2 separate regions of the Homo sapiens genome follow, and region 1 is linked to region 2. The links come from fine-mapping of genetic effects on gene expression. A gene starts in region 2. The other region holds a variant in brackets. All regions are shown on one strand. Distances are from middle to middle.

Evidence for each region. PIP is the estimated chance that this variant, and not a neighbour inherited with it, causes the effect.
Region 1: its variant is the best candidate, but not a certain one, in a credible set for the expression of DEAF1 in Th1 cells (Schmiedel 2018, PIP 0.57).

Annotation. Positions count from the first base shown.
Region 1 is chr11:666,416-670,794 of GRCh38, reverse strand. All of the region lies in intron 10 of DEAF1 (DEAF1 transcription factor), which reads left to right. Among named protein-coding and RNA genes, the nearest start is that of DEAF1, 27 kb to the left of the region's middle. The variant AG/G (reference allele first, on the strand shown) is at 1,669.
Region 2 is chr11:693,198-697,576 of GRCh38, reverse strand. It overlaps DEAF1 (DEAF1 transcription factor), which reads left to right and starts at 2,355. Exons shown (of 12, transcript NM_021008.4): 1 at 2,355-2,818. The coding sequence starts at 2,530. TMEM80 (transmembrane protein 80) reads right to left here and starts at 1,761. Exons shown (of 5, transcript NM_001042463.3): 1 at 1,731-1,761. The coding sequence starts at 1,749. RefSeq lists enhancers at 217-756, 1,297-1,836, 1,837-2,378, 2,379-2,918 and silencers at 1,364-1,783, 2,284-2,583, 2,594-2,713, 2,734-2,983.

The DNA.
Region 1 (4,379 bases), 27 kb after region 2:
AAAAAAAAAAAAAAAAACAAAAACAAAAAGAAAAAAGAAATTAAAAAGGAAAAAAATAAAGAAAAAGATATATATATATTTTGAGATGGTCTTGCTGTGTCACCCAGGCTAGAGTGCAGTGGTGTGATCTCGGCTCACTGCAGCCTCCATCTCCCAGGTTCAAGCGATTCTTGTGCCTCAGCTTCCCAGATAGCTGGGATTACAGGTATGTGCAACCACGCCCAGCTATTTTTTGGTATTTTAGGAGAGAAGAGGTTTCGCCATGTTGGCGAGGCTGGTCTTAAACTCCAGGCCTCAAGTGATCTACTTGCCTTGGCCTCCCAAAGTGTTGGGATTACAGGTGTGAGCCACCGCACCTGGCCAAAAAAATACTTTAAAAAAAAAAAAAAAAAAGTATACTTCCAAACAAACAGCTACTTAATGCTGAAATTTATAGAGGAAAAGAAAGTTTAAAGGCAAAAAAATCTATAACCCTGCACCCAAAGATAATGACCGTGAACACTTACTGTGTGTCCTTTTGGTCTTTTTTGGTAATTGAGGTAAACTGTATGTACAGCAAAGTGCCTCAATCTCCACCATAAAATGTAGTGAGTTTTGATGAATGCATGAACCTGGTCATGAGACCATTTCAATCCCTGCAGAAGCACCACTCATGTCCCCTTCCATCGGTCCCCTGCCCCATGGACAGTCACTGCTCTCATTTTTTTTTTTTTCTTTTCTCTTTTGAGGCAGCATCTCACTCTGTCACTCAGGCTGGAGTGCAGTGGCATGATCTTGGTTCACTGCAGCCTTGCGCCACCATGCCTGGCTAATTTTTGTATTTTTTGTAAAGATGGGGTTTCTTTTTTTTTTTTTTTTTTTTTTTTTGAGACAGTCTCACACTGTCACCCAGGCTGGAGTACACTGATGCAATCTCGGCTCACTGTAGCCTTCGCCTCCCAGGTTTAAGTGATTCTCCTGCCTCAGCCTCCCGAATAGCTGGGATTACAGGCACATGCCACCATGCCCAGCTAATTTTTGTGTTTTAAGTAGAGACGAGGTTTCACCATGTTTGTCAGGCTGGTCTTGAACTCCTGACCTCAGGTGATCCTCCTGCCTCAGCCTCCCAAAGTGCTGGGATTACAGGCATGAGCCACCGCACCTGGCCTCTTTTTTTTTTGAGACAAGTTTCGCTCTTGTTGCCCAGGCTGGAATCCAATGGCACAATCTCGGCTCGCCATAACCTCCACCTCCCAGGTTCAAGAGAGTCTCCTGCTTCAGCCTCTCAAGTAGCTGAGATTACAGGCATGCGCCACCACGCCCAGCTAATTTTGTATTTTCAGTAGAGACAGGGTTTCACCATTTAGGTCAGGCTGGTCTTGAGCTCCTGACCTCAGGTGATCTGCCCACCTCGGCCTCCCAAAGTGCTGAGATGACAGGTGTGAGGTACTGCACCCAGTTGATTTTCTAGATTTCCTACCACAACTGATTTCTAATTCAACTCCAATATGCTTAGAAAATATACTCTGATTTCAGTTCTTTTAAATTGATTACGATTTATTTCGGCCAGGCATGGTGACTCACACCTGTAATCCCAGCACTTTGGGAGGCCAAGGTCTTGAGGCCAGGAGTTTGAGACAAGCCTGGACATTGTGAGACCCTGTCTGTACAAAAAAAAAAAAAAAAAAA[AG/G]GGTCGGGTGCAGTGGCTTACGCCTGTAATCCCAGCAGTTTGGGAGGCCGAGGCGGGCAGATCACAAGGTCAGGAGGTCGAGACCATCCTGGCTAACACAGTAAAACCCCGTCTCTACTAAAAATACAAAACATTAGCCAGGCATGGTGGCAGGCACCTATAGTCCCAGCTGCTCAGGAGGCTGAGGCAGGAGAATGGCATGAATCCAGGAGGCAGAGCTTGCAGTGAGCCGAGATTGCACCACTGCAGTCCAGCCTGGGCTACAGAGCGAGACTCTGTCTAAAAAAAAACAAAAAACTTTTTTTTTAAAGGGTTTCACTTTGTCACCCAGGCTGGAGTACAGAGGTGTGACCTCGGCTCACTGCAGCCTCAAGTTCCCAGGCTCAAGCAATCCTCTTGCCTCAGCCCCCCAAGTAGCTGGGACTATGGGCATGTGCCACCATGCTTGGCTAATTTTTGTATTTTTCATAGAGAGAGGGTCTCACTGTGTTGCCAGGCTGATCTCAAACTCCTGAGCTCAAGCCATCCACCCACCTCAGCTTCCCAAAGTGCTGGGATTACAGGCATGAACCACTGTGCCCGGCCAAAATGTTTCCTTCATTAGCCGGATCACTGGAGCCCAGGGGTAGAGGTTGCAGCGAGCTGTGATCACGCCACTGTGCTCCAGCCTGGGCAACAGAATGAGACCCTGTCTCAAAAAAACAAAAAGATGTGTTTTATGATCATGTATATACTTTTCGTGGTGAATATTGCATATACACTTGAAAAGAGTTTTATTCAGTCATTGGTTTTCGTTTTCTGTAATGTCATTAGGTCAAGGTGGTTCATAGTGTGGTCCAAATCTTGTTTTTCTTCAACCTAAAGATGTACTTTCAGCTTTTCTTTTCATATAGGTCTGTTGGCCATGAATTCTCTGTTTTTGTCTGTAATGTCCCTCTTTCACCTTTATTTTTGAGGGACGTTTTTGAGTGACATGGAATTCTGGGTTGTCACTTACATATATATATTTTTTTGAGACAGAGTCTCGCTCTTGTTTTCCAGGCTGGAGTGCAGTGGCACAATCTCCGCTCACTGCAACCTCCATTTCCCAGGTTTAAGCAATTCTCCTGCCTCAGCCTCCTGAGTAGCTGGGACTATCGGCGTGCGCCACCACACCCAGCTAATTTTTGTATTTTTGGTAGAGACGGGGTTTCGCCATGTTGCTCAGGCTGGTGTTGAACTCCTGGGCTCAAGTGATCCACCCGCCTGGGCCTCCCAAAGTGCTGGGATTACAGGCATGAGCTAACACGCCGGCCTATTTATTTATTTATTATTTTTTGAGACAAAGTCTCACTCTGTCACCAGGCTGGAGTGCAGTGATGCCATCTCGGTTCGCTGCAACCTCCGACTCCCTGGTTCAAGCGATTCTCCTGCCTCAGCCTCCTGAGTAGCTGGAATTACAGGCACACACCACCATGCCCAGCTAATTTTTTGTATTTTTTTATTAGAGACAGGGTTTTGCCATGTTGGCCAGACCGGTCTTGAACACCTGACCGACCTCAGGTGATTCACCTGCCTCGGCCTCCCAAAGTGCTGGGATTATAGGCATGACCTACCTGGGTTGTCACTTTTTATCATTCACCAGTTTAAAGATGTCTTTCCATCATCTTCTGGCCAGCCTGCCTACCTGCCTTCCTTCCTTCCTTCCTTCCTTTCCTCTTTTCCTCCTTCCCTCCTTCCCTCCCTCCCTCCCTCTCTCCTTCCTTCCTTCCTTCCTCCCTCCCTCCCTCCATCCCTCCCTTCCTTCCTTCTTTTTTCTTTCTTTTTTGAGACAGGGTCACTGTCTGTCACCGAGGCTAAGAAGCAGTGTTGTGGTCACATCTCAATGCAGCCTTGAGTTCCTGGGCTCAGGTGATCTTCCCTTAGCCTCCAGAGTAGCTAGGACTACCGGCACTGGCCACTACTCCCGGCCAATTTTTAGCTGGGGTTTCACCATGATGCCCAGGCTGGCCGCAAACTCCTTGGCTCAAGCGATCCTCTTACCTCAGCCTTCTGAGTAGCTGGGACTACACATGTGTACCACCATGCCCAGCTATTTTTTTGTTTGTTTTGTATAGATGGGGTTTCACTATGTTTCTCAGGCTGGTCTTGAACTCCTGGACTCAAGCAACCCACCTTCCTTGGCCTCCTAAAGTACTGGGATTACCAGCATGAACCACTGCTCCTGGCTATAACTATTTCTTTTTTTCTTTTTTTTTTTTTTTTTTTTTTTTGGAGACAGAGTCTTGCTCTCCAGGCTAGAGTGCAGTGACACGATCTCAGCTCACTGCAAGCTCTACCTCCCAGGTTCAAGCGATCTCTTGCCTCAGCCTTCCAAGTAGATGGGACTACAAGTGTGCACCACCACACCTGGCTAATACTTTGTTGTTTTGTTTTGTTTTGAGACGGAGTCTTGCTCTGTCGCCCAGGGTTGGAGTGCAGTGGCACGATCTCAGCTCACTGCAACCTCTGCCTCCCGGGTTCAAGTGATTCTCCTGCCTCAGCCTCCCGAGTAGCTGGGACTACAGGTGCATGCCACCACTCCTGGCTAATTTTCTGTATTTTTGGTAGAGAGGAGGTTTCACCATGTTAGCCAGGATGTTCACAATCTCCTAACCTCGTGATCTGCCCGCCTGGGATTACAGGTGTGAGCCACCGTGCCCAGCCTCAGGATCTGCTTCTTTTGGCTACT
Region 2 (4,379 bases):
AGATTGAAGTTATGGGGCTTGGGGGAAAAACTGTATAAAAGCCTTAAGTGATGTAACATTTTAATAATTAATATGAAGGGCGGCTATAACCAGATACGCTGTTCTAACAATTCCAGACCTGCAGGAGCTCATTCTGACCGAACGTAGCCTTGGCTTTCAGGACAACATTTTTTGTCAGTGACTTACTATAATCACAATGTGGCTACGAATAGCTGTGTCAGGCAGAAGTTAAACATGGAAGTGAAAGAGAACAAGTGTTTTCCCTGATGTAATGGACAAGATGTGTTAAGAAATCTTGTTTTGGTATACACTTAGTTTTTTTAGAGACAGGGTTTTGCTCTGTTGCCCAGGCTGGAGTGCAGTGGCCTGATCACAGCTCACTGCAGTCTCAACCTCCTGGGCTCCAGTGATCCGCCAGCCTCAGCCTCCCACGTAGCTGGGACCACAGGCTCCCTGAGGTAATTTTTTTTTTTTTTGAGACAGAATTTCGCTCTTGTTGCCCAGGCTGCAGTGCAATGGTGCGATCTTGGCCAACTGCAACCTCCGCACCCCACCCCCCCCACCACCACCACCGGGTTCGAGCAATTCTCCTGCCTCAGACTCTCAAGTAGCTGGGATTACAGGCATGCACCATCACGCCAGGCTAATTTTGTATTTTTAGTAGAGACGGGGTTTCTCCATGTTGGTCAGGCTGGTCTTGAACCCTCGACCTCAGGTGATCCGCCCGCTTTGGCCTCCCAAAGTGCTGGGATTACAGGCGTGAGCTACTGCGCCTGGCCTTCCCCGGGGTAATTTTTAATTTTTTTTTTGTAGAAGGGGGTCTCGCTCTGTCGCCCAGGCTGGAGTGCAGTGGCGCCATCACGGCTCACTGCAACCTCGACCTCCTGGGCTCAAGTGATCCGCCAGCCTCAGCCTCCAGAATAGCTTGGCCCACAGGGGTGCGCCACCGCCTGGCTGATGTTTACAGTTTTTTTTTTATAGAGGGGGTCTTGCTATGTTGCCCAGGCTGGCCTCAAATGATCCTGCAGCCTCGGCTTCCCAAACTGTCAGGCTTACAGGCCTGAGCCACTGCGCCCAACCTAAACTTAATTTTTAACCAAATGAAAATACACAAAACAAACCTGGTTACTAGAGGCTGTCCTGCCTATGGAGTAGCCATTCTTTATTCCTTCAAAACAATGCACCTAATTACTAGAGAACACGCACGAAGGTTTGGCACTTCAGCGCCCGCGTATGGGAGTTCTGGCTGTACCCACAGACAGCAGAAGGCGGCTCCTCTGCAGGATGGCCGATTTACTGCTTTGGTCTGTCCCTTCCTCCTCTCGGAGGCGAGTCTCTCAGGCAGGACGGCTGAGGCACCGGCGCCCGCGATTTTCTTTGGCGAGAGTTCCAAGGCTACCGAAACCCTGCGCCCATCCCGCCCACGTGTCTTCACAAAAACCACGCGCGGGACAAGAGCTGCCGGGGACTGGGGCCCCCAGAGCCGCTCCGCACCCACCCTGCCCGGGGCCAGGCGCCCGCGCGCGGGGGAGCTCTTCGGGGTGCAGGACGCCCGCCACCCAGGCCAGGCCAGGCCGCGCTTCTCGATGGGGTGACGGAGCTGTCTCGCTCACGTAGAGACGGTGGCACGGCCCCGTGAGCGCACCGAAAGCGGAAACCGGATTGTCACCACAGGGAAACGCCGCGCCCGCCGCTGCAAGCCCGGAAGCCCCCACCCCGCCCGAGCTCACCTCGCCGCGGGGCCGCCATCTTACCCGCCCCGCCCGCCGGTCCGTCGCGATCCCGGCAGCCTCTCGGCCCGCGCGCTCGCGCTCCTTCGGCCATTTTCGCGTCTCCTGACGAAGGGGCCCGACCGCGCCGCGTTTCGGGAGCGGACGTCCGAGCCACGGCCGAGGCCCGATTAGTCCGTCCGGCACCGCTCGGGCACTTTCGGAAGGGAAGAGGTGGAGAACCGACGTTCGGGAGCATTCGGCCTCGGGGACATTCGGCTCGTCTCGGCTCGGCCTCGGGCTGACTCGGCTTCCGCCGGCGGCGGGAACGGGCGAAACCCGCGGCACTAAGCTCTCTCTGAGAGGCAGAATTGCGCCGGCCGCCGGCGAGAATCTGCCTAGAGCCGTCCAGCCCTGTCGGCCGGGGACGACAGCCGCCTCAGCCTGTCAGGACAGTGAGGAGAGCAGGGGCCGAGTCTCTCGGAAGCCCTCGTGAGGACTCGGACCTATTCGGACTGATTCGGCTTCCCACTTCGGGGAACTTCGACCCTCCTCGGTTCAGGACTCGGTCTCGGCTCGGCGGCTTCGTGCAGGTTCGGCTCCTACTCGGGCAGCCTCTGTTCGCCTCGGCTCCGCTCCGCGGGCGGACTCGGCTCGGCTCTGCTCGGCGGCTGGCTGCCTTTTCGGTCCCTATTCGGGCGGCGGCTTCGGGCGGCCTCGGCCCAGCTCGGGCGTCCTCTTCGGGCCCCGCTTCGGGCTCCGCGACCGGCGCTTCGGGCGGTCCCGGACGGCGCCTTCGGGAAGGCTCGGCGGAGTCCGGATGGAGGACTCGGACTCGGCGGCAAAGCAGCTGGGCCTGGCTGAGGCGGCGGCGGTGGCGGCCGCGGCCGCTGTGGCGGCGGCGGCCGCGGCCGCGGCAGGAGGCGAGGCGGAGGAGCCGGTGCTGAGCAGGGACGAGGACTCGGAGGAGGACGCAGACTCGGAGGCGGAGCGGGAGACGCCGCGGGTCACGGCAGTGGCGGTGATGGCGGCGGAGCCCGGGCACATGGACATGGGCGCCGAGGCCCTGCCCGGCCCCGACGAGGCCGCCGCTGCCGCAGCCTTCGCAGGCAAGTGCGCCCGCCGGCCTCTCGCCTCGTCCGGTTCCCGCGCGCCTACCCCGCGCGCCTGCCCCGCACAACTGTCCCAGGTGACCAGCCCGCCACACCTGTCCCTCACACCTGCTCCACGTGACCAGCCCGCTCCACCCGCCCTGCACACCTGCCCCTCACACCTGCTCCACGTGACCCGCCCGCCCCACCCGCCCTGCACACCTGCCCCACGTGACTAGCTCACCCCTCACATCTGCCTCTCACACCTGCCCCACCCGCCCCTCACACTTTCCCCACGTACCTGCTCCAGGTGACCAGCCTGCCCCACCTGCCACAAATACCTGCCTCGCACACCTGCTCGACGTTTCCAGCCTTCCCCACCTGCCCCACGTGATCGGCCTGCCCTACCTGCCCCGCACACCTGCCCCACATACCTGCCCCAGGTGACCAGCCTGCCCCACCTACCCCAAACACCTGCCCCGCACACCTGCCCCTGGTGACCTGCCTAGCCTCACCTGACCTGGCCCTGCCCTGCACACACCTGCCCCCTGCCCCCCTTTTCTTTGTGGCAGCCCCGCCTCCTACTGGTCCCCCCTGTGCAGCTCTGCCCCTGCCCTGCCTTCGTCCATCCTGGCTCCCCCCACCTGTCCTGGAGAAGCCCTGGGGTGGGTGGGCACCTGTGGTCACCAGGAACCCCCCACTTCCTGAGGGCCAGTTCAGGCATGACCTGAGCGCTGGGGAGCCAGGGGTGGGCAGCCTGCTGGAGGCCATGATGCCAGAGGTCAGCGTGGCTGTGTGGTGGCCCAGGGGGGCTGCGGAGCCACCTGTGCAGGCTCCCCTCCCAGTCCTCCCTCTTCCTCTTGCCTTTTTCCCTAAGGACCTGCTCCTCCTGCCCCGCTTCCTGTCGGGCTTCCTTTGGGGAGGCTGCTGTGGCTTTCCAGTCCACATTTTTATATAAGCTGCTTATAGTTTCTTGCCACACAGGTCAGTCTCCTTCTCAGGCTCCAAAACACTGGGAGCCCGTGGCAGAGCTCACAGATGCCCTACGGGGCTGGTGCCGTCCACCCACCTCCTGTGTCCCGCCCTTGTGTCCGTGGGGCATAGACTTCCCCACCCACTGGCTTCCTAACGCACTGTATTCTTCCCCATTGGAGTTCCCGAGTGTCCCCCAGGGACTCACAGCTCAGTGTTGAGACCCTTGGGAGGAGCTTCTTGTTGCGTTGTGAGGCACTTTTCCCCTACGGAGCTTTGCGGGTTGAGGAACTGGATCCCAGTCCTGGTGTGCTGGGTATGTCAGGGCATTGCGTGTGCTCTGGGTGCTTGTTCGGCCTGGGGGCTGGGTGGGGGCCAGCAGCGTCTGGGCTGCCCTTGGTCAGCTGAGTGGCCCTCGAAGGCAAAGGGGTCACTGCTGCTTGTTTGGTTGGTTAAGAAAAAAAAGTGAGGGAAGGCTTTGTGACTCTCAGGGGTTGGCGTCCGTCGCTAAACTCTGGTTTGACGTTGGGATTTGGAGCCATGAGGTTGATTTCAGGTTTTTGTCATTTTTGCACGTATTTTTCTGAATGCATAAAAGAAAAATGAT